Homo sapiens: one gene and its partners. The protein of the gene in region 1 interacts with the protein of each later gene in a biochemical or structural test. Each region holds a gene or a part of one and is shown on either strand. Other genes may lie near its edges. The genes, in order: VAMP7, ANKRD27 and AGFG1.

What was found.
Region 2: the proteins of VAMP7 (region 1) and ANKRD27 form a complex in vitro, tested with the Homo sapiens proteins (one study listed by BioGRID).
Region 3: the proteins of VAMP7 (region 1) and AGFG1 form a complex in vitro, tested with the Homo sapiens proteins (one study listed by IntAct).

The regions. Positions count from the first base shown.
Region 1 is NC_000023.11:155,883,733-155,891,442, forward strand, and holds part of VAMP7 (vesicle-associated membrane protein 7), read left to right. Parts: intron 1-5,725; 5' UTR 5,726-5,734; coding exon 5,735-5,880; exon of another isoform or gene 5,881-5,896; coding exon of another isoform or gene 5,897-5,901; intron 5,902-7,710. UniProt on the Homo sapiens protein: Involved in the targeting and/or fusion of transport vesicles to their target membrane during transport of proteins from the early endosome to the lysosome. Required for heterotypic fusion of late endosomes with lysosomes and homotypic lysosomal fusion.
Region 2 is NC_000019.10:32,636,731-32,644,440, forward strand, and holds part of ANKRD27 (ankyrin repeat domain-containing protein 27), read right to left. Parts: coding exon 7,595-7,710; intron 6,902-7,594; coding exon 6,842-6,901; intron 6,755-6,841; coding exon 6,701-6,754; intron 6,623-6,700; coding exon 6,557-6,622; intron 6,470-6,556; coding exon 6,393-6,469; intron 5,416-6,392; coding exon 5,294-5,415; intron 3,656-5,293; coding exon 3,577-3,655; intron 2,759-3,576; coding exon 2,626-2,758; intron 1-2,625. UniProt on the Homo sapiens protein: May be a guanine exchange factor (GEF) for Rab21, Rab32 and Rab38 and regulate endosome dynamics.
Region 3 is NC_000002.12:227,516,747-227,524,456, forward strand, and holds part of AGFG1 (arf-GAP domain and FG repeat-containing protein 1), read left to right. Parts: intron 1-3,201; coding exon 3,202-3,317; intron 3,318-7,016; coding exon 7,017-7,179; intron 7,180-7,710. UniProt on the Homo sapiens protein: Required for vesicle docking or fusion during acrosome biogenesis. May play a role in RNA trafficking or localization.

The DNA of each region.
Region 1 (7,710 bases):
CGGAGTCTCACTCCGTTGCCTGGGCTGGAGTGCAGCGGCGCGATCTCGGCTCACTGCAACCTCCGCCTCCCAGGTTCAAGCAATTCTCCTGCCTCAGCCCCCTGAGTAGCTGGGATTACAGGTGCACACCACCACGCCTGACTAATTTTTTTTTGTATTTTTAGTAGAGACGGGATTTCACCATTTTTGGTCAGGCTGGTCTCGAACTCCTGACCTCAGGTGATCCACCTCGGCCTCCCAAAGTGCTGGGATTACAGGCATGAGCCACCATGCCCGGCCAAGAAACACATCTTTGAGTATTACTTTCTCAGCCTGAGGTAATTTAAGTGGTAATGTTATTCTGCCACATTGTCATTTTCAGGATGTCAGATAAAAGCCTCAAGTATTAAAATTAAACTTTTTTTTTTCTTTTGAGACAGAGTTTTGCTCTTGTTACCCAGGCTGGAGTGCAATGGCATGATCTTGGCTCACCTCAGCCTCCACTTCCCGGGTTCAAGCGATTCTCCTGCCTCAGCCTCCCAAGTAGCTGGAATTACAGGCGTGCGCCACCACGCCTGGCTAATTTTGTATTTTTAGTAGAAACGGGGTTTCTCCATGTTGGTCAGGCTGGTCTCGAACTCCTGACCTTGGGTGATCCGCCCGCCTCAGCCTCCCAAAGTGCTGGGATTACAGGCATGAACCACTGCGCCCAGCCAAAATTAAAGTCTTATTCCATGCAGGTATCTTTCAATTGTAAATCATTACTGCAAAAGACAAATTTTGTCTTTATAACTGATTAAAAACAACAGCAGTACAAGAGTGCTTGAGTCATGACTGTCGTGAATTTAGGATGTGCCAACCTAAGATCAGCCAGATACTTCTAAGATGTAAACATTAAGCATTGTTATTTTAGGTGATTTATTGACACCTATTTCTTTATAGACAGGAATGCAAGTGCAGCACTGAATTGTGTGCCATTGCTCGTTTATAAGATACACATGTAGATGATCCAGAATATTCTTATACATTTTTCAGTGTTATCAAAATACAAATGCAGAATTAAAAGATTTCTCAAAACACATGGACTTGGCCTTTCCCCTTACTCAGTTACCTGAAACTGTCTTCAGCCTCTACTTGAAGATGCTTCTGCTGAGGAGGAGCATTTTCATCATTGCTGTTCTATGTTATTACCAAATTTTTTAATACAGGCAATTTCTTACTTACAAATGGATATATTCTAAAAGTACTGTTGTAAGCTTATTGTTTGGAACGCTGGATGCATTTCCTTCTATAAATAATGCTATCCATGACATTTACACTGTTATGCCAACCAGTATCATTTTATTAACTTTTAATTTAGTGGACTCGAAGACCTTCCCCACAATTTACAATAATTCCTCTATTAAAAAACTGCATTTATAATTCTCATTTGAATTCCCTTATAGCATATCTTTTTTTAGAAACCCAACAACTAGAACAAAAATATCCTTTCTTTAGTCCCTTAACATAGTAAAAACAGGCTTTTCTAACTCCAAACTGTTGTGGGTGACCCTTCTAGCCCTTAGCTCTAAGGACAGTCCTCCAATATGAGCAAGGAAAACGAAGGGACAGAGGTTTTAGAGAGGGAGGCAAGTTGGGTGATATGAGTATCTGGAAAGGGAAGGGTAGGATTTATTTGGGATGAACAGTGAGTTTCTAAAATGGAAGTTTGCATTGCTTGTCAGCCTTTTGGCTAAGATCAGGTGTAGTATCAGTTTAAAATGGGGGTTTGTTGTGGGTTGAATTGTGTCCTCCAGAAAGCTGTGTTGAAGTCCTAACCCGTGGTACCTGTGAATGGGATCTTATTTAGAAATAGGATCTTTGCAGATGTAATTAAGATGTAATTGAAAATGGGGTCATACTGGAGTAGAGTGGGCCCTTTATCCAATATGACTGGCATCCATATAAAAGAAGAGAGACAGAGAGAATGCAGTGTGAAGACACAGATACAGAGAACACCATGTGACTACAGAGGTAAAGATTGAAGTGCTGCACCTCCAAGCCAAGGAACACCAAGGATTGCCACCAAACTATCAGAAGCTAGAAAGAGATAAGGAAAGATTCTCTTCTACAGGTTTCAGAGGGAGCATAACCCTGCCAACATCTTGATTTTGGACTTTTAACCCTCAGAACTGGTAGGCGATACATTTCTGTTGTTTTAAGCAACCAAGTTTTTGGTACTTTATTACTGCAGCTACAAGAAACTAATACAGGATTCTTAGCAGGAATAAAGTAGAATTGGGATGGTGGCTGTGGGACCAAGTGGGGAGTGAATAGGAGAACAAAGAGGAACAGTGTTGATATGGGGCTTTCCTTTATGTTGCATTATCTTTTTTTCTTCCCTTCTCTCTCTGGCTTATCTTTTCATTCTTTTTCTTCTTGGATCTTATCTTTATATAGCACTTTATGGTTTATTAGGCATTTACATACTGCTAATAATTAGCAGAGCCAGGTTTTCTAACTTCAAGTGCAGTGTTCATTGTGCCACAATTGTTTCTGTTATCCCAATACTCATCAAGACGTTATGGATTCTATTACAAGACACTTACAATGGGGGCAGGTAAGACTTCATAGGTGGGATTTTTAGCAGTATAGCAGAGAGGAAGGAATTCCTATTAGTGACATCTGGAAGGAAAGTAAAGTTTCTGTTGCTATGTACCCACTGTTTAACAGTCATTTTTAAGTTGGGGACTGCTTTTATTGGAAGAAACACTACTTGCGTATAACTTATATTCATTGTTCCTAGTTATATTCTGAATAATGTGCTCCCTGTTCCAGGTGACTGTACTTTATATAAACTCAAAAACTATTGTCATGTTCCCTCTAAGTCCTCTCTTTCTCATGTTACATATCTCTAGTTCCTCCAGCCAGTCTTCAGATGACACAATCTCCATGTCTCTCACCCATATTGTATTGCCTCCCTTTTGTCTAGTCGTTAAATATTCTACCCAGAATTGAATTCAGTATTTTACATATGTTCTAACCAGCACAGAGTGTAATGGGACTAGTACTTAAACAGGTCAAGACACCCTATTTCTTAATGTACTTTGAGATTATGTAAGCATTTTTAAGCAATATCGCATACCGTTGGTTCATAATGAACTTACAGTCCACTGAAACACTAGATCTTTTTGTATTAATTGTTGCCAAGGTCAAGTTTCCTTCTGAACCTGCACAGGGACTGAGGCTGCTGCTACTTTTTCATCTCTCTGTTCCAGGGACCATATGATTTCTTATCTCTGTTTCTCTTTGTGTTTTTGTTCCTCTCTACTGTGTCTCTTTGACCCTAAGCAATGACCTCCTTCCTTGTTATAAAATTTCACTGATTGTTTTACAGTCTTCATTCTCTTTCTTTCCTTTCGGCTTCTGGGCCACCACACTTTTGGCTTTCCCATTTGGTCCTCCTCAGTCTTTGTGAGTCTCTATTTATCTACCTTTCCCTCAACTGTTGGTTGTGCTTTGGGTTTTATCTTTGGCACTATTTTTTTTTTCTGTATGCAATATATCTTCAGCAAATAAATCATGTTTAAAATGGCAGATCTAACTGAGCTCATCTGGGAATAAAAGGGCACAGAATCAGTCCCGGAGGAAAGTCGACATTTAGAGGTCAGGTAGAGGAGGAAGAGTCAGCAAGAAGACAAAAAGAGCAGCCAGAGATGTAGGAGCATTTCAAGAAGGAGGGTCGGTCAGCAGTGTTGACTGTGCCTAAGAGGTCAAGTAAGGTAAGAATAGAGAAGCAACCACTGTATTTTGCAATATAGAGGCTGTTGGTGACCTTAGGAAGCATGGTTTTCTGGAGTTTTAAGGGCAAAAGCTGGATTATAGTAAGTAGAAGAGTTGAAAGGAGGCAGAGGAGCAGAGATAATGCGTAACGATGCTTTGAAGAAACAGAACAGGGCCAGGTACGGTGGCTCATGCCTGTAATCCCAGCACTTTGGGAGGCCAAGGCAGGTGGATCACTTGAGCCCGGGAGTTCAAGACCAGCCTGGGTGACATGGTGAAACCCTGTCTGTACAAAAAAAAATACAAAAATAGCCGGACATGGTGGCACACACCTGTAGTCCCAGATACTCCAGAGGCTGAGGTAGGAGGATCACTTGAGCCTGATAAGTGGAGGCTGTAGTGAGCCAAGATTGTGCCACTGCACTCTAGCCTGGAGCTTGGGTGACAGAGCAAGACCCTGTCTCAAAAAAAAAAAAAAAAGAAAAGAAACAGAACAGTAGGATCCACAGTTAGGGAGGCTTTAGGATCAAGGGAGATAAAGTATAAGACAGCAATTTGGAAACTATAACTTACTGCATATGTGTAAGGAGAATTCTAGAAAGAAGATGGTTGAGATCACAACCCTGGGGAACAACTTCAGTTAGAGAGTAGGAATGAAAAAGAGATCCCCAAAAGGCATTCAGCCCAAGAGACAGATGAGCACCTTCTGCTCTGTGTGCTGTCCTTCCATGCTGGGATTGCAATAAGGAATCTGCACATTCCTTGATCTCAAACAGTTTATAGTTTGCTGTTGTGTTTCACAAAGTATGTTTGTGTGAATCACCTGCATCCAGACAGACTTGTATTAAATACAGATTCCAGGGCCCTACCTCAGGCCTACGGAATCAGAATTTCAGGAAGTGATGCCAAGAGTTTGAATTTTTAGCAAATGACTCATACTCTGCCACACAAGATGATTCGTATTCCCACTACAGTTTGAGAACCACTGGTATGTTGGGTACTGAGCATGTTAACAAATAAGAGTAGGTTTAACAGTTAATCGAAGACTAGACAAGGATTTGTTCATCTCTTTTTATGTTTATGCCATTAAATAAGAGAAGCTGGGCTTGTTAGGTGGGAAATAATAGCACATATTCATAGGCAGACATAAGGAAAATAATCTTAAACTCATGCCATATGGTTTTAGTAATGTTTTGTTTATGAAGGGTCTTACCATTCCTTTCTTGTGGAAGCTTTGAGTTATTTTCACTTTGTTTCTGTTATGGATAATGCCTTTATACTGGCAGTGTACAGTAAAAGGCTAAGATTATGAGCTCTAGAACCATACTGCCTAGGTTTAAATTGCAGCTCCACACTTACTAGCTCTGTAATTTGGGGGAAATTATTTAAGTCATCTGTGCTTCAGTTTTCTCATCTATAATAGAAGTATCATAATAGTGTATAATCTCATTGAGTTGTGAGGATTAAATGGATTAATAATTATAAAGTATTTAAAATGGTACCTGGCACATAGTAAACAATAAATATAGGCTATTTTTATTGTTAATAGTTATCTTTGTGAATCTAGAGTCTTAACTTCTGTTGAACTATTTCTCTAGGATAAATTTTCAGGATGGAATTTCTACATTAAAGAATGAAGACATCTTTATGTCCCTTTGCTATCTATAGTCATTGCTTTTCAAAAGGGTGATATCTGTTTGTGCTATAATAATTTGTAAATGCAAGCTATCAATGGTGTGTGTGTGTGTGTATGTGTTTTGTATGTCTCTTTATATGAATGCATACAAGCATGGCTTAGGTTGTAAGTTTGTAGAAAACTTTGACCTTCTTTTTAAGCCTGCTCTTAAGTCTGTTGTTAAGTTTCATGTTATAGTGCCTCGTTAGATACTATCTCCAGGTAGTATGTTGATAAATGATAGTAAGTTACCTTTGAAAGATTATGTCAAAGAAATATTCTAAATCTGTGTCTTTTTCCTTTTGATAGACTGAAGCCATGGCGATTCTTTTTGCTGTTGTTGCCAGGGGGACCACTATCCTTGCCAAACATGCTTGGTGTGGAGGAAACTTCCTGGAGGTGACAGAGCAGATTCTGGCTAAGATACCTTCTGAAAATAACAAACTAACGTACTCACATGGCAAGTGAGTTCTGTTCTGCATGTGGTAAGGGATGAAAGAAGGGAATTCTGTTACTCTAATCAGAACGGTAGAAAAGTAGAAAACAAGCTTCTAGGTACATAATTTGAATAAGCTGACAGAATAGTAACCTTCACCAACTTAGAAAATATATCTGGTTTTGTTACTTATAAATTTAACTTGTAATTATTTTATTCTATTATTGAAGTGATATTTTATTTTGAAGAAAGATGAAATGTTAAATGTAAAAATGACTTTGCTCTAGAGCTGTGTGATATGTGAAAATAATTCAGATAAGATAGATAATGTTCCTTTGTTCATTCTTTCAGTAAATATTTACTGAGCACTTAACTATTGCCAGGCACTTTGCTTGGTGCTGGGGATATAACAAGATATGTGGTATTTGCCCTCATAAGGGTTATAGTTTAATGAGGGAGAAAGTCAAATCCACGATGTCAAGGGTTGGGGGGATGGGAAGTAGTAGATAGGAGAATGGTATTCCAAGTAGAAGGAACAGCAGGTAGAGAAGTATGGAGGCATGAGATCATAGGGCGGGCATATTTAGGGAACTGCAGACTGTTCTCTGTGACTGGTGCCCAGGATGGTGAAAATAAAGCTAGAGAGATGGGTAGAAGAAAAGTCATGTAGGGCCTTGTAGGCCATATTAAGAGCTTGGACTTTACCTTGTGGGCAGTGGAAAGGCATTGAAGGTTTTCAGCCAGGGTGTGACAGAGTCAGGTTTGTTTTATTTATTTATTTATTTATTTATTTAGAAACAGAGTCTCACTCTGTCACCCAGGCTGGAGTGCAGTGGTGCGATCTTGGCTCACTGCAACCTCCATCTCCCAGGTTCAGATGATTCTCGTGCCTTAGCCTCCTGAGTAGCTGGGATTACAGGCGTGCACCACCATGCCCAGCTAATTTTTGTATTTTTAGTAGAGTTGGGGTTTCACCATGTTGGCCAGGCTTGTCTCAAGCTCCTGACCTCAGGTGATTCGCCTGCCTTGGCCTCCCAAAGCGTTGGGATTACAGGCGTGAGCCACTGCCCCTGGCCCTTCAGTCAGTTTTTGCTTTAGAAAGATCACTCTGGTGGCTTATTAGAGTGGCCATAGTTGGGAAATCTTAGTAATTAGTTTTAAAAAGTGCCTCAACCTTCCCCGTTGGCACTTAAAAATCTTTTCTTACTTAACCCAGCCTTACTTCCTTAGTTCTTATCTCAGAATGAGGTCCTTATTACTTTCTATGGCTAACCCCTTATACAGTTTAAGGTGTACTCTAAGCTACTATGAGAGAGACCCCCAAGATACAGTATTAATTTTAATGAGATAGTCCAGAGATGAGTGGTTTGGGATGTTGGGGTGGCTCTGCCATTTCCAATTCCCTAATTCCCAAAGCAATTAGTGCTTTCCACTTCTGGCCAAGGCAGCTCCTTTGGTGCTTGTTATATCCCAGTGCTTGCCCAGTAATTTTAAAGGCAGGGCCCAGAAGTGGCCTGATATTGTTGAGAAGCTTCCACTTACATCTTACTGTTCACTACACAGTCATGTAGCTAGCATAGCTAGAAGGGAGGCCAGGAATTGTCATCTCTGGCTATGTAGTCGTAGGCTCAACTAAAACTCTGTTACTCTGGAGGAAGTTATAGGATATCAGGGGATGACTTGCAGTCTTCCAGTCTACTCTCCTGGCCACCCAGATATTTCAGTGAACCTTTCTTCCCAAACATAGAATACGCCTCTTCTCTGAGAGAGGTAGCTCCAAAGACCTATCTAGTCACTGTGTTTGGCTCCAAGTCCAGCATGTCTAGGTGGTACACAGTCCTATCCATCAGGCCCTGGT
Region 2 (7,710 bases), on another chromosome or scaffold:
ATATATATATTTTTTATATATATATACACATATTTGAGACAGAGTCTTGCTGTGTTGCTCAGACTAGAGTGCAGTGGTGTAACCTCAGCTCACTGCAACCTCTGCCTCCCGGATTAATGCAATTCTCCTGCCTCAGCCTCCCAAGTAGCTGGGATTACAGGCACCTGCCACCACACCCAGCTAATTCTTGTATTTTTAGTAGAGACAGGGTTTCACCATGTTGGCCAGGCTGGTCTCGAACTCCTGACCTCAGATGATCCACCTGCCTTGGCTTCCCAAAGTGCTGGGATTACAGGCGTGAGCCACCGTGCCCGGCCCAGCACACAATATAATTTCAATTATGTAAAATATACATGGGTAGGAAAAAGACTGAAAATGCATGAACGTGTCAATAACGAATGAATGGGGTGGAAATGCCTGCACCTGAGAGCACCTGGACAGGCTGATGCTGTCTCCCAGACGCTTTAGCTCATCATTATTTTGGGAGATTCTACATCAAAGTCTGACAAAGATGAATGTTCAATCCTTGGCACTCTCACCTTATAATACAGAGATCTTTTCATTTTATAGATTTCAACTTTGTGATTTCTGTATGATCACATTTTACTCATTGGTATGTAGTAAAACAGGCCAGCAGGACAACCATGGTTCAAGATTCTCACGATTCACATAGAAATATAATCACATCCCCTCGCCGACCCCAGCCAATGCTCAATAAAAACCAAGGAAACAATGGCAAGGCCACTGAGTCCTCAAATTGCACACATTAATGGTCTCACAGATGGCAGTGGCAGCCCATCGGGAGTGGCTGCTGCAAAGACGTAAGCTGCAGTGGAGGAAGCGCGGCCAGGTTTGTGCACTCTGCAGGGCCAACAGGAGCCAGGAACAGGCAGGAGCCCCCATCTCCTACTGAGCTGGCAGGGCGGGAGCCCTGCACTCCCAGGCGCAGCTGCAGCCGCCCAGCCGCAGCTCTGGATCCAGGAATCTCTGCACTCTCAGGGGCCCAGGAAGCATCCCTGCCGCCGCAGGCTCGTAAGTGCCTGCTCCCGCTCCTCCCCACTCCTGGCACCGACTTCAATTTCAGAGCAAAGCTGAGGCCAAGCCCGGGTACTGTTGCAACCCAGCCATGTGTGCACATGCTTGGTGTGACACTGACACACCAGCCTCCTGATGCCTCAGACCCCTCCAAGATTTTGGGCGCTGATGAGCATGGGAGAGTAGTCAAGGTAGGGGCTGAGGGCAGCTCAGTGCAGGCCTGCAGATGCCCCTTGGCACAAACAGCCTGGATGCACTGGCCAGCATGTTGATGGTGGCAGAAGGCAGACACGCTTCTGGGTGGAAAGGTGCAGGTGCCCAGTGAAGCCCCACCTTCAAGACAGGGACAGCCTAAAGCCTGGGGGCCGGGCTGTCAGTCCCAAGTGGAGTCCACGACCCAGACTGAGAACTCATGGTGCTTTCTCCAGGCCCACCTATGGACCAATCAGCACATACTCCCTCCCTTCTGAGCCATAAAAAACCCCGGACTCAGCCAGACTCAGACAGATGTCGGGACTACCAACTGCAGGAAGGAGCTACCTACGTCAGGCCTCTTTAACTCGTCAGGACGACCTGCCTGTGGAAAGAAGCTGCCCACTGTGGGTCTCCTGAGAGCTATTCTGCCGTTCAGTAAAGCTCCTCTCTGCCTTGCTCACCCTCCACTAGTCTACGTACCTCATTCTTCCTCGACATGGGACAAGAACTCGGGACCCACCAAATGGCAGGACTGAAAGAGCTGTAACATAAAGAGAGCTAAAACATGCTCCCGACTCACTACATTGCAGGTGACGAGAGGAGAGAAGAGCTCTGGCCCTTCAGGGAGCCCAACCTAGGAGTTCCCCGAGCCAGGGCTATGACACCCTCTTTGGGGCTCTGCAGTTCCTGGTGTCTCCAAGCTTCCAGGCCCCACTGTGTTCCCCAGTGCCCACCGTGGAAGCGGCCTACAGTACGCCTGCTCTAGCTGCAGCCTTGCATGGAGCAGGACCCTGTACAAGCAACTTGGAGCTGCCCACCCCACCTCAGTCGGCACACCTGGTTGTGTGCAGTGGCCAGACCCTGCACTTGCTCACATACCCCTCGCCACTCCACACCTGGCTCGCCCTTGGCAGGCATGGGATCCAGGCCAGTAGCACAAGCCGAGCGCAGCCTGCCAGGCCAAGAGCGTGAAATGAGCCCAGCAGGCCCGAACAAAACTCAGGCAAAGGAGCCACCAGCCACAGAGGTTTCCGGCTGGAAAAGCGACAGTCCAGGGATCCCGTGACATCACTTCTTGACTATCAAGGTCAAGAAATCCAAATTCCCTACTTCTGGCTTCCCTTTGCACCCACATGTCTTTGGAGAGGATGGGGACTAATGAAGTAGGATATTAACAATGTAAATCCCAATGATAACCCACCAATTTTTACCACCAATTGAGGGCTTGGTGTTCTCTTCACTGAGTGATTTTTAAGACTCACAGCCCTCAAACAGCTGAGGCCCCATTCCTGGGAGGCAATTTAAGAATCCGTCTGCCCACATACCAACCCCAGCACCCTATCAAGGGAACCATGATGCCCACAAAGGAAGGCCAGGGCAGGGGTGAGATCTTACAGGGGGTTTAGCAGAGAGGCTTCCTTGCCGAATATATTCAATGGCAGCTTCGAATGAGGTCAGGCAGTATCCCAGTTCATCCTTTGCCAAGCTGCTAAACCTGAAGTTTTTGATGTAACTCAAATTTGCCATCCTAATGAAAGGAAGAAAAAAGTTATGTTGTTGTCTATCCAAGTCACACTTCTGCAAAAAAAATATCATTGGCTTGGGCAACTGATCAAATATCTAGTCAGTTGGTTCGCTCAGGAAGCTACGACCACCATCCCCTGGATCTCTCTGCAGAGTGTGTGCGATTAGGAACACAAGTAAAATGACTAGCTAGTTCCCTGAAATAGTCTTTAGCAAGCTGATTACCGTAAACTGAGCTGTGGGTTCCAGGGGAGAGATTATGGGTTTTGGGGCCAGAAAGAATGGCAATCAGCTTTCTGCTCAACCACTGTCTAGACACTCATTCCAGAACAAGAAATGTAAGCTCTCCGGGCCTTGGTTTCCCCATCTGTAAGTGGATGGATGAAGCAAGGGGAGGCCCCACACCTAGCTCGTAACAGGTGTCCAATTGAAGATGGGCTTTTCCTAGAGTTACATTAGAACTACCACAGTGCAGTGCTGCCATTTTTTTTTTTTGAGACGGAGTCTCGCTATGTCGCCCAGGCTGGAGTGCGGTGGCGCGATTTCAGCTCACTGCAAGCTCCGCCTCCTGGGTTCACGCCATTCTCCTGCCTCAGCCTCCTGAGTAGCTGGGACTACAGGTGCCCACCACCATGCCCAGCTAATTTTTTTGTATTTTTTAGTAGAGACGGGGTTTCACCGTGTTAGCCAGGATGGTCTCGATCTCCTGACCTCGTGATCCGCCCGCCTTGGCCTCCCAAAGTGCTGGGATTACAGGCGTGAGCCACCGTGCCCGGCCAAGCACTGCCATTTTCAAAAGAGTATCTTAAAAGAAAATGTTACCAATTAGGGATCTCCGTTTTCACAAGCAAGTATAACAGGACTGATAGCAGATCATCAGCACACATGGTCTCCAGGTTCACTGCAAAGGGGAAACACACATTCAATGCCATCATGAGATTCAAATGGACTGACAAGCATATCAACTCCCTACCACCGCACACCTTGTGAAACCACGTATCAGGGAGATCATACACTGGGGGAGAAATGTCATTGCACAAGCTCCTTTACAGCGTCCTGATCAGATGTCAGGTCCAGGGGGAAAAGAATGCCCAGCAATTTCAGAACATGACCAAAACAAGGTATTAGTAACTCTAGCCAGATACGGCAGCACGTGCCTGTAATCCCAGTGCTTTGGGAGGCCGAGACGGGAGAATTGCTTGAGGCCAGGAGTCTGAGGCCAGCCTGGGCAATATAGCAAGACCCCCACCTCTACAAAAAAATATGAAAATTAGCCAAGGGTGGTGGTGCATGCCTGTAATCCCAGGTACTTGGGAGGCTGAGGCAAGAGGATCACTTGAGCCCAGGAGTTCAAGGATGTAGTGATCTACAAATGCACCCAGCCTGGGTGACAGAGTGAGACCCTGTCTCTTTTTTTTGTTTGTTTGTTTTTGAAACGGAGTCTCGCTCAGTCACCCAGACTGGAGTGCAGTGGCGCAATCTTGGCTCACTGCAAGCTCCGCCTCCCGGGTTCACGCCACTCTCCTGCCTCAGCCTCCTGAGCAGCTGGGACTACAGGTGCCCGCCACCATGCCCAGCTAATTTTTTTTTGCATTTTTAGTAGAGACAGGGTTTCACCGTGCTAGCCAGGATGGTCTCGATCTCCTGACCTCGTGATCTGCCCGCCTCAGCCTCCCAAAGTGCTGGGATTACAGGTGTGAGCCACCGCGCCCAGCCGACCCTGTCTCTTAAGAAAAAAAAAAAATATGTTAACTCCAAGCAGACCATGCCTTGCCACCCCCTTGGACGCTGAAAGAGCCCAGGGAGGTGGCTTCAGTGATAAAAAATGAAGATGAGCCCAGAGCCATCACCTAAAGTCTCTTTCTTCCTAAAGTCACCAAGGTCCTTCCTAAGGTCACTTCCATTTTATAGACATGGAGTCCACTGCCCATGTGGAGTTTCACTTTTTTTCCATTTTGAAATTTTAAGTAATTCATTCACATTTAAAAATTCAAACAATACAAAAGAGCAAACTGTGAATGTTCCTCCCATCCCTGCCAGCCAGTCTCTTTTCCCAGAGGCTCCTGCTGTTGCTTCCTGCACATCTGTCCAGGACAGCTATGAGCTCACCATCATATCGTGGCTAAACAGCTATCCCCCATTCTTTGATGCTGTTGGCTGGAAGTCTACCATATGCATTCCTGTTTATTTCATTCCATACACTCAGGATCATCCCTTATCTACACATACAGCTATGTCTCTTCCTTACTGACTTTTTCTTGACTTGTTTTCTTTTACTTCTTCTTTTTTTTTTTTTTTTTTGAGAAGGGGTCTCACTCTATCACCCAGGCTGTAGTGCACTGGTGTGATCATAGCTCACTGCAACCTCCAATTCCTGGCCTCAAGTGATCCTCCCACCTTGGCCTCCCAAAGCACTGGGGTTACAGAGGTGAGCCACTGCACCCAGCCCCATAAAAATCCCTTAAGACAGCATCACTCTTTGCTTTTTCATCTGGATGTAGCATCTACCCCTTGGCCAGTCCCCTTTCCAAGCACAAACCTCTCTGGCTTGGAGACTGTGTAATGAGCTGCACCACTTTTCGCAAGCAGACAAGCTTCTGCTGTGGGGAGGTGCATTTGTTCAGCTGAGCCAGCTCTCTTTTGGCACGAGGTATGTTAAAGCTGTAAAATAATTTGGAAAGTGACAACTTCAGAGCACAGTAAGAGAACCCTCTGGCCTGGATCTAAGAACACATCTCAGGATCTACACTTCTCACAACAAACCAGAAGGAATGAAACACAAAAACAGATACTGAGAAGTCATCTGACTCAAGTCAGCGGCAAAACAGAAGAGCCTTCAATCCCATTCAGGCTGCCAGGTGATAGAGTTGTACAAGAAAAGCTGAAAAAAAAAAATCCTATTCCTAGAGGGAAACAACCCAAAGAGGGTTGTGGTAGGTGAAACATTTTTGTGTCCTAATGAAACTTAAATTAGGCTCGGCGCAGTGGCTCACGCCTGTAATCCCAGCACTTGTAAACCAGGGTGGGCAGATCACTTGAGGTCAGGAGTTCAAGACCAGCCTGGCCAACATGGTGAAACCCCATCTCTTCTAAAAATACAAAAATTAGCAGGGCATGGTAGTGTGCACCTGTAATCCCGCTACTCGGGAGGCTGAGGCAGGAGAATCACTTGAACTCAGGAGGCAGAGGTTGCAGTGAGCCGAGATCACACCACTGCACTCCAGCCTGGGCGACAGAGTGAGACTTTGTCTCAAAAAGAATAAAAATTAAAGAAATGAATTAACTCCTAAGTAGGTATCTCTATGGCAAGGTTCCCTTGGGTGGGCAGGTGGGATGTCCCCTGCACGCAGAACCCACATGGGCAAATTACATGCCCACTTGGGGACCAGCTGCACAAAACCCCGTGCCCAGCGGCTCCCATCCAGCTGGCGTGCTGGTGCAGTGTGGGAGGGGGACGGCCACACACAGTCACCTATAAAGGGCAGCCCTTTATCTTTGGTTGCAAGTAACTGCGCTGCTCCTCAGAACTAACCACATCAAACCAGCGTGTCACCTCTGCCACCGAGAGGGCCTGCTTCCGGGAGAAGACAGCACCCCTGCCTCTGAGGACACCAAGCCGCTGTGGCGCAAACCCTTACCTGAACTCCGGTTTCACACCAATATCTTTCTGCTGAAGATCTTGAAGGCTTCTTGTGATTTTGTTAAAGGCCGCATCCTAACAACAGATTTTAACGAACCTTCAAATTTCTCAAAAAGCACAGAAGAAGGCTTCCATCTTGGGTGATAATAACTGAGAACCTACCTCACTTGCCTCCATGGTCCCCACGTATTTAAAGATCAGGTTGTAAATTTCATGATGGACGTATATCTGTGGAATCAACAGACCCCATTCAGGGTGTGAGCGGGCAACAGGGTGTGCCTCCCAGCCACTCCGCCCCACCCTCACCTCCACTGCCTGCTTCATCAGGTTCATCTGGGCCTCCTGCTTGGCGAGCATTTTCTAGAGGGCAAGAAAAGCACAGTGAAAGGGCTTGGATTTGCATGGGGGTGCACCACAATTCTCCCTCTCAGAAGTCCTGCTGCTTACCAGGTGAGAGTCCCTCAGAAGCTGCTGGAGGCATTTGGTGTAGAGAGCATTCGCTGAGTCCTAAACCACATAGAGCAGAGGGACAGGCCACCCTTACCAGCAAGGCCATGACGGGGGAGCCGGAGCGGGTAAGGCGCACAGAGCTTCAAGTGCTAACACAAGCTTTATGAAGTCAATTACGTGATTTTTCTCAACTTTTTTTTTAGGTGTATATGCATTAAAAGCAGGAGAAACTTCCCCTTGGGGTTAACACAGAGGATAATAATACTCATTGTTATACTTCCCCATGACTTTACCACTTGGTTTGTTTTTTCTTTTTAAGAGACAGGGTCTCACTTTGTTGCCCAGAGTAGAGTGCAGTGGTATGACTATAGCACGCTGCAGTCTCAAACTCCTGGGCTAAAGCCATCCTCCCACCTCGGCCTCCCAAGTAGCTGGGAATACACGTGCATGCCACCATGCCTGGCTAATTTTTGTATTTTCTGTAATGATGGGGTCTTTTTATGTTACCCAGGCTGGTCTTGAACTCCCAGCCTCAAGAGATCCTCCCATCTCGGCCTCCCAAAGTGCTGGGAAGACAGGCTTGTACCACCATGCCCGGTTAAACTACTTTTATAGTTAGAGAGAAACATTTTTAAAAGACTTCAAACAGTGAGGCAGCACCAGGCAGTTCCAGAGGAAACTGAGGGCTCCCAGCACCCTGCACTGAACCGAGACAGGGCACGCCAGGCAGAGGACAGCACGGCTACTGACTATGTGGTGACGGAGGCTCTTTCTCTCGCATTCTCGGAATGTTCGATGGAAAGAGGCGATGTTCCTGTCAAATCGCTCGGAGTGTCTTCCCAAGAACTCTCTCACATCTTCAATGG
Region 3 (7,710 bases), on another chromosome or scaffold:
TGTATGCTTATTATTTATTCATTTATTGATTTTAGTTTTAAAAGTGGTATGTGGCAGAGGTTTTGGAATATAGTAAAGTGTCCATCAAATACAGTCAATAGTTTCATGGCTTTGGGTAAATAACTACCCTGTCTCTTGTTTTCTCATTTGGGAAGTTTTAAAATAGAAGAATGAAAAACTTCCAGGCCTCCCTTTATGAATGTAACTGATAAATCTTTAAAAATCTTAAAGAATTACATTTTGGGAGAATCATTAGTTAGGTTTCTGCCTGAGGAGAGTCCCATGTAGTTCTTTGTAAGTGGCTAAATATTGGACAAGCTGGGTCTCTTAAAGGTCTGTAGTATTTCTGGCAGTAAGTTGTACTAATGTTCCTGGATGTCTGTACTTCTCAGGCGTTGCCAGTGAAATGTTTTCATAATGGATTGTGCCTTACTCTAGTTCTCACTCGTTTTAACTGTCACTTCCTAAATGACTTTATAGTATCTGTACTGAGCCTGGAATAGGAAGGAACCACAAGAAATATATATATAGACAGACAGACACGGAGTCTCACTCTGTCATCAGGCTGGAGTGCAGTGGCGCAATCTCGGCTCACTGCAACCTCTGACTCCCGGGTTCAAGCGATTCTCCTGCTTCAGCTTCTGGAGTAGCTGGGGTTACAGGCATGCGCCACCATGCCCAGCTATTTGTTTTTTCTGTATTTTTAGTAGAGGTGGGGTTTCACCATGTTGGCCATGATGGTCTCGATCTCCTGACCTCATGATCCGCCTGCCTTGGCCTCCCATAGTGCTGGGATTACAGGCGTGAGCCACCACGCCCGACCCACAAGAAATGTTTTGAAACAGATTTGGGGACATGATAGGAAAGGAGAAGGGCAAGTCCTTTCTCCTAACCTTTCTCTTATTTCTCCCATACCCAGTTCAGTGAGCAGGTAAGATTGAGAAGTACGCTTTTCCTTCCCTGATTTCTTAAATACTTGTCAGGGTTTTTGAAACCAGATACTATGCTCTTTTCATAGTGTCGTAATTGCTTATTCTTTAGAATAATGTATTTTGGAAACTCGTGGACTTGTTTTTGATAATTTTGCTGAGGAATAGTTGATAACTTGGATATTTAAACTGATAACGTGTACATACTTAAAGTGTACAATTTGATGAGTTTTGACATTTGTATGTATCATGAAACCACTACCACAATAACAAGATAGCATATATTTTCATTGTGCAACCCTTTGTAATGAATCCACTGATCTGCTTTTCATCGCTGTAGACTGGTTTACATTAAAAATTTAAATGAATGGAAATATGCAGTATATACGTTTTGGTGGGGGGGTGCACATGTTTCTTTCAGCATAATCTTGAGGTTTATTCATGTTTCTTGTATTAATGGTTTTCTCCTTTTAATTGCTGAATAATGTTCTTCTTTGGATATTCTCCCATTTGTTTATTCACTTGTTTATGAACAATTGGGTGATTTCCAGTTTGGGGTTATTATCAGTAAAGCTGCTACAAATATTTATGTACAGTCTGAGTGTGGAAAAGTGCTTTTATTTTTCTTGAATAAATACCTAGAAGTAGAATGGCTACATCATATGCTAGGTCTATGTTTAACTCTTGAGAAACTGCCAAATGTTTTCCAAAGTGCTTACACCATTTTACATTCTAAAGAATTCCGGTTGTTCCACATTGTTACCAACACATGATGCAGTCACACTTTGTTTTCGGCTTTTCTAGTAGTATATGCATGTCTGTCTTGTGGAGTCTCAGTGTCTTTTTTTTTTTTTTTTTTTTTTTAAAGACAGAGTTTTGCTCTTGTCGCCCAGGCTGGAGTGCAATGACATGATCTTGGCTCACTGCAACCTCCCCTTCCTGGGTTCAAGCCATTCTTCTGACTCAGCCTCCTGAGTAGCTGGGATTACAGGCATGCACCACTACGCCTGGCTAATTTTTTTGTATTTTTAGTAGAGATGGGGTTTCACCATTTTGGCCAGTCTAGTCCCGAACTCCTGACCTCAGGTGATCCGCCTGCACCCGGCCTCAGTGTCATTTTAATTTGCATTTTATGCATGACTAATGATAGTGGGCTGCTGATATCTTTGGTGAAGTGTTTGTTCAGACCTTTTGCCCCCGCTTTAAACAAGTGTTGGCTGGGCATGGTGGCTCGCGCCTGTAATCCCAGCACTTTGGGAGGCTGAGGCGGGCAGATCGCTTGAGCTCATGAGTTCGAGACCAGCCTGGGCAACATGGTGAAACACCATCTCTACAAAAAATACAAAAAATTAGCCACCTGTGGTGCTGCACTCCTGTAGTCCCAGCTTACTCAGGAGGCTGAAGTGGGAGGATGGCTTGAGCCTGGGAGGCAATAAGCTGAGATTGCACCACTGCACTCCATCCTGGGTGATAGAGACAGACCTTTTCTCAAACAAACAAAAACCAAAACAAGTGTTGGGTTATCTGTCTTTTATAATTGAGTTGTAGGAATTCTTTATATATTCCAGTTTCAAGTTCTTATACATTTTACAAATACTTTTGATCAGTTGGTGTCTTGATTTTTGTACTTTTTAAGTTTTTTTGAAGAATAGTTTTTTATTTTGATGAAGTCTGCTTTATCAGTTTTTCTCTTTATAGTTCTTTTTGTGCTATTTTATTTCATTTCTCTTTTGGTTTTTCTGAAAGTTAAATATCTCAGATTCTCATTTTTTAGCTATTGGACCAAAAATGCATAGGAGACAGCTATAAAGCTAATAGTGTGTTTGCCTTATATTTGTGTTTATTGTTACAATTTTAAAGTGTTTATGATTCTAGTATTTTTGTTTGTTCTTTTTGGTTTTTTAGACTTGCTAAAGGGCCTGTGAAATAGCCATTGGTTCAGTTCCTTTGTTTTGTAAGGGAACTGAGCAGGTTACATGACTTTGCTAATGGTGAAGTTTATGATTATGCCAAGACTGAAAAGACCCCAGGTCCTCTGAAATCCCACTTCACTCTTCATTTCCCCTTTTTAATGATTTTGTTGCTAAAATTTTACTGCATACTGCAACATATTAAAAATAAATTTAGTTCCTGTTTATTAGTATCCTCATTGAAAGCATATTATTAAAATTATTATGTAGATTAGCTTCCTGAAAGAATCATAGTATCCCCTTAAAATTTCATTAAGTGAAGATGTTGAATTTAACATATATTTTTTTAATTCTTTCCAAAGGTCTGTAAACAGATTTGGCTAGGATTATTTGATGATAGATCTTCAGCAATTCCAGACTTCAGGGATCCACAAAAAGTGAAAGAGTTTCTACAAGAAAAGTATGAAAAGAAAAGATGGTGAGTGAAGAGTTTGTATGTAGAATAAAGCCTCCCCAAATCACATATTAACTATGGGTAAGGTTAGTCTGACACAATGAAGGATAAAAGACAGACAGTGAGAACTAGATAGGTATATAATTCATTATCCCTTGGCTTTTTGTTGGTTTGGTTTCTGAAAACCTTTACTTCTACTTTATCTTAACTCATCTGTTCCTGGCAGCAGGCTTTTTGTTGTAATAATTACCAGGAAAGTTAGGGATTCTTCCTTCTAATCATTCCCTATCTCTGTTAGCTTCTTTAAATATGTTTTGCCCTACAAAGCCTCCGTTCTTAAAAATCATTAATTTAGCAAGTATTTACTGAGTCATATCTTTTTTTAATTTATTGAGTTTCATCTTCTGTATACTAGGCACTATGCTAAAGCTCTGGTGTAGTAATCCATCTACTTAATTGTCTGTTGTAGCCTTTGCTCAAAATATTTTTTCTTTTGACCTAAGAAATCAGTTTACTTTCTGGTTAAGAAGGGAGCATTTACTTTTCCCTAACTAAATCTATCAGATGTTAATTTTTAAAAATTAATTCCAACAGGTTGTACATATAGCTAGTAAGCCCCTTGCTATGGAATAGGGACTATATCTATAAAGCTAGTGTTCAGCTACTGAGGGTTCTTCATTTTTAGCTATATGAGCACAATTTAAGTTACTAAGACTCATTAACTATGAACTTTTGGTTATTTCTTTAATAGTATTGCATAGTGGATACTTTCATCTTGGGAGGTTAACAAGATGGGGCAGAGAGTCAAAATAGAGGGAATAAATAATGGGGAAGTAACGAGCTTCTTGTTTGCTTGAGGAACTCTGTTTCAACCCAAGAGAATCTGTTCAGAGCCTGTTTTGGTCCTGAGGGAACATTTGTTGTGGTTTACAGCAGAGGTCTTTACCTTCATTCAGGAGCACATTAGCTCTGACTTGCATGCTCTATCAAAATTTGTATTCTTACTACTTTCCAAAATAGACTACATTTTTCTTTTTTTTTTGGAGACTGAGTTTTGCTTTTGTCACCTAGGCTGGAGTGCAATGGTGCGATCTCGGCTCACTGCAACCCCCGCCTCCTGGGTTCAAGCAATTCTCATGCCTCAGCCTCCCAAGTAGCTGGGATTACAGGCACCCACCACCACGCCTGGCTAATTTTTTGCATTTTTAGTAGAGACAGGGTTTCGCCATGTTGGCCAGGCTGGTCTTGAACTCCTGACCTCAGGTGATCCACCTGCCTCAGCCTCCCAAAGTGCTGGGATTACAGTTGTGAGCCACTGTGCCCGGCCTAAAATAGACTACTTTTTGCAAGGCAAGATTAGTCAGGGCTATATTCAGCTGTACTAGAAGACATCAAGTATGAAAATAGATTAAAATACACCAGTAAAATTTAAGTTCAGGAAAGAAGAAAATACTAGAAGGTGGGTTGGTAGTAAAAATATGGTAGCATAAATGATTCTTTTAAAATGAAAGGTATAATTATCCTTTTATCATTTTGGTTCTGAATTTCCTAGACATTCTACCCTGTAGGAAAGACTGTTCTCCTTACATAGCCCTAACCTAGTTTTGTTTTCTCAGCCGTGTTACTTTTACCAATTCAGAAAGTGAGTTTGGTTAGGGATTAGTTTATGGTCAGCTCTAGCTATCAACAGAAAAGTGAGTGTGAGTAACAGTTGGTAGAATTAAAATCATAGATCCTTACCCCCACATTTATAACAGTAATGTATTATTCATTCAAACTATAACGCAAATACCTAGAAACCTCAAATAATTACAGTTTATGTTATTTTTTTTCTTTCCTGAGAAACAGGATAATAAGAGTTATACAAATAGAGACTTCAAGTGGTGGGACAGGTGACCATCATTAAGAGGGCCAGGACCTGTATGTTTTTAATCCAGACTGCTGCACACCTGTAACATACAGCTAGCAAGCAGTGAAATTGGTTTCTAACATGGAATAAGCACTATCCAGATGCAGCATCTCTAAAAATACTCACTGTAACTATACTTAAAACAGTGATGATGGTGTTATCCAAAGGGATTTTGAAACTGTTCTTTTGACCAGTTCTCAAAATCACTTTCTGTGTTATACTAGAAGACATCAGGTATGAAAATAGATTAAAATACACCAGTAAAATTTAAGTTCAGGAAAGAAGAAAATCCTAGAAGGTGGGTTGATAGTAAAAATATGGTAGCATATTACTTTGCCAGGTGAGTCTTTTGAACCAATAACTATCATTTGATTTTATCCTTTGATAAGACTTGGCTATACTGAAGAATTTGTATTAGTAGTATGCTAAATTATGGGAAAATATAACTTCTTGTATTCATTCTCATACATCTTTTATCTCTCCCATTTACTTGAAAGCAGTTGTTTGTGATTATTATGTAGTTTAGTGACAGTGAACACTTAGTTAACACGTATACCAGGAATTGTTCTCAGTGCTTTACAAATGTTAACTTGTTTAAACCTAGGCAACTCTGCCTCTCCATTTTATAAATGAAAAAAATGGAAGCACAAAGAGTTGAAGTATTAATAGTTTGCCCAAGGTTTCACAGCCATTTAGTGGTAGAGCTGGGATTTGAACTCTTGTCTCTGGAACAGGTGCTCTTAAGCATGGTTTTCCTTCTTTCCTCACCTACTTCATATGGGGAATAAGAAGGAGGGTAGGACAAAACCCAGAATTACAAAGAGCAAAAGCTCTCACATAATCCCACACCTAGAGGTCAGGATTGCCTATGTTTGGACATTATTATATCCTTGCTACCTCTCCTTTCTTGACTCGCCTCCTCACATAAATCATGTGTTTATATGACTGGAATCAAATCTGAAAGACCTGTGAAGTTTCCTCTTTCCATGTCAAAGCAGAGTAGCTATGAGTATTGTATTATCGTAAATTTTTTTTCCTTGATAGATGTTGGGTTTGTTTCCCAGTTTTTGTGAAATTATAAAGAGAGGACTGTGGTTAACATCCATGTGTACATGCATCTGTATACACTTACCAATTCTTAAGGATGTTTCTGGAAGTGGCACTTCTGGTGCACAAAGCACACCTATTTATATATTTTAGTAGGTAGCAATAAAAAATTGTAAAGTTCACACTTAGCTCATAGGTGAATAAAACCTTAATTTGCATTTTTGTCAGGTTAAAAGTGTTTTCATTTTTGTGTCTCCTGTCTTCTGTGAATTGCTTCTTTTGTTCATTTAAAATGGGATGATCTTATTCTTACAGATGTAATAAGCCTTTATATTTTAGGCTGTTAACTGTAATATTACAAATGTTTTCCTACCTCATCTTTCTTCAAATGTTATTTAGATCTTAAGATAATTTTAAAAATTATAGTATGAACTATTCATGGTGATGACTAATTGTAGGTCCTCTGTTTAAAAAAAGCAGTTATTTCTTATATTGTACTTAATATCTTAGAAAAACCATAAATAAGTAATTGAAACAAGTTTTGTGGTTAGTCTTCTCTTTTCTCTGAGTATTTCAAATATTTAATGGGTGTAGTCTTAAGCTGTCGTTCCTTTTTTAAAAAATATGCAAAGTTATTCTGTGTGAGAGGGTTTTCAGATAAGATTAATGGTGAAACAATCTTGTACAAAGTTAGAATTAAGCTTATCATTTTTTGATATAGAATTACCTACATTTTTTTTTAGTTAACTGTTTTTTACATGTTTTAGGTATGTCCCGCCAGAACAAGCCAAAGTCGTGGCATCAGTTCATGCATCTATTTCAGGGTCCTCTGCCAGTAGCACAAGCAGCACACCTGAGGTCAAACCACTGAAATCTCTTTTAGGGGATTCTGCACCAACACTGCACTTAAATAAGGGCACACCTAGTCAGGTGAGTAGTCTTTGAATCTTTGTAGGGAATTCGACTTAAAGAGGGCTTGAGTATCAAGAATTTGAGAATTGTTTAAGACAGCAGCATAATCTTGTATGCCAGTAGCATTATGTTCCAATGGTTTGTTATACATTAAGAAATTGTTGGTTAAGTGGTTGAAATGTATATATACTTGTTCTTTTTGCTATTGCTAATATGAGTTTCTTTGACTTCTCTGCAACTTTGTAAAGGTGAGTTATACAGGAATGTTGCTATAGCTATATATATGTGTGTGTGTGTATACATGTATATATCATGTGTTATACAATTTGTAAAACATGAATCTATGGTGACCATCAGAGTTAGAATGTATAGTCTCTTTGATACACTTTTCTAGGAAGGGATTTCTTTAGTAGTAGAGTTTTCCCACATGTGTGATTGTGAAGCATGTTGATCATTGAAACACAAGGGACTTTGCATTATACCTTATTCTTAAAAATGAACAAAATGGAATATTTTCATAAGTTGCTACCTAAAGTTTGTCTTCTACAC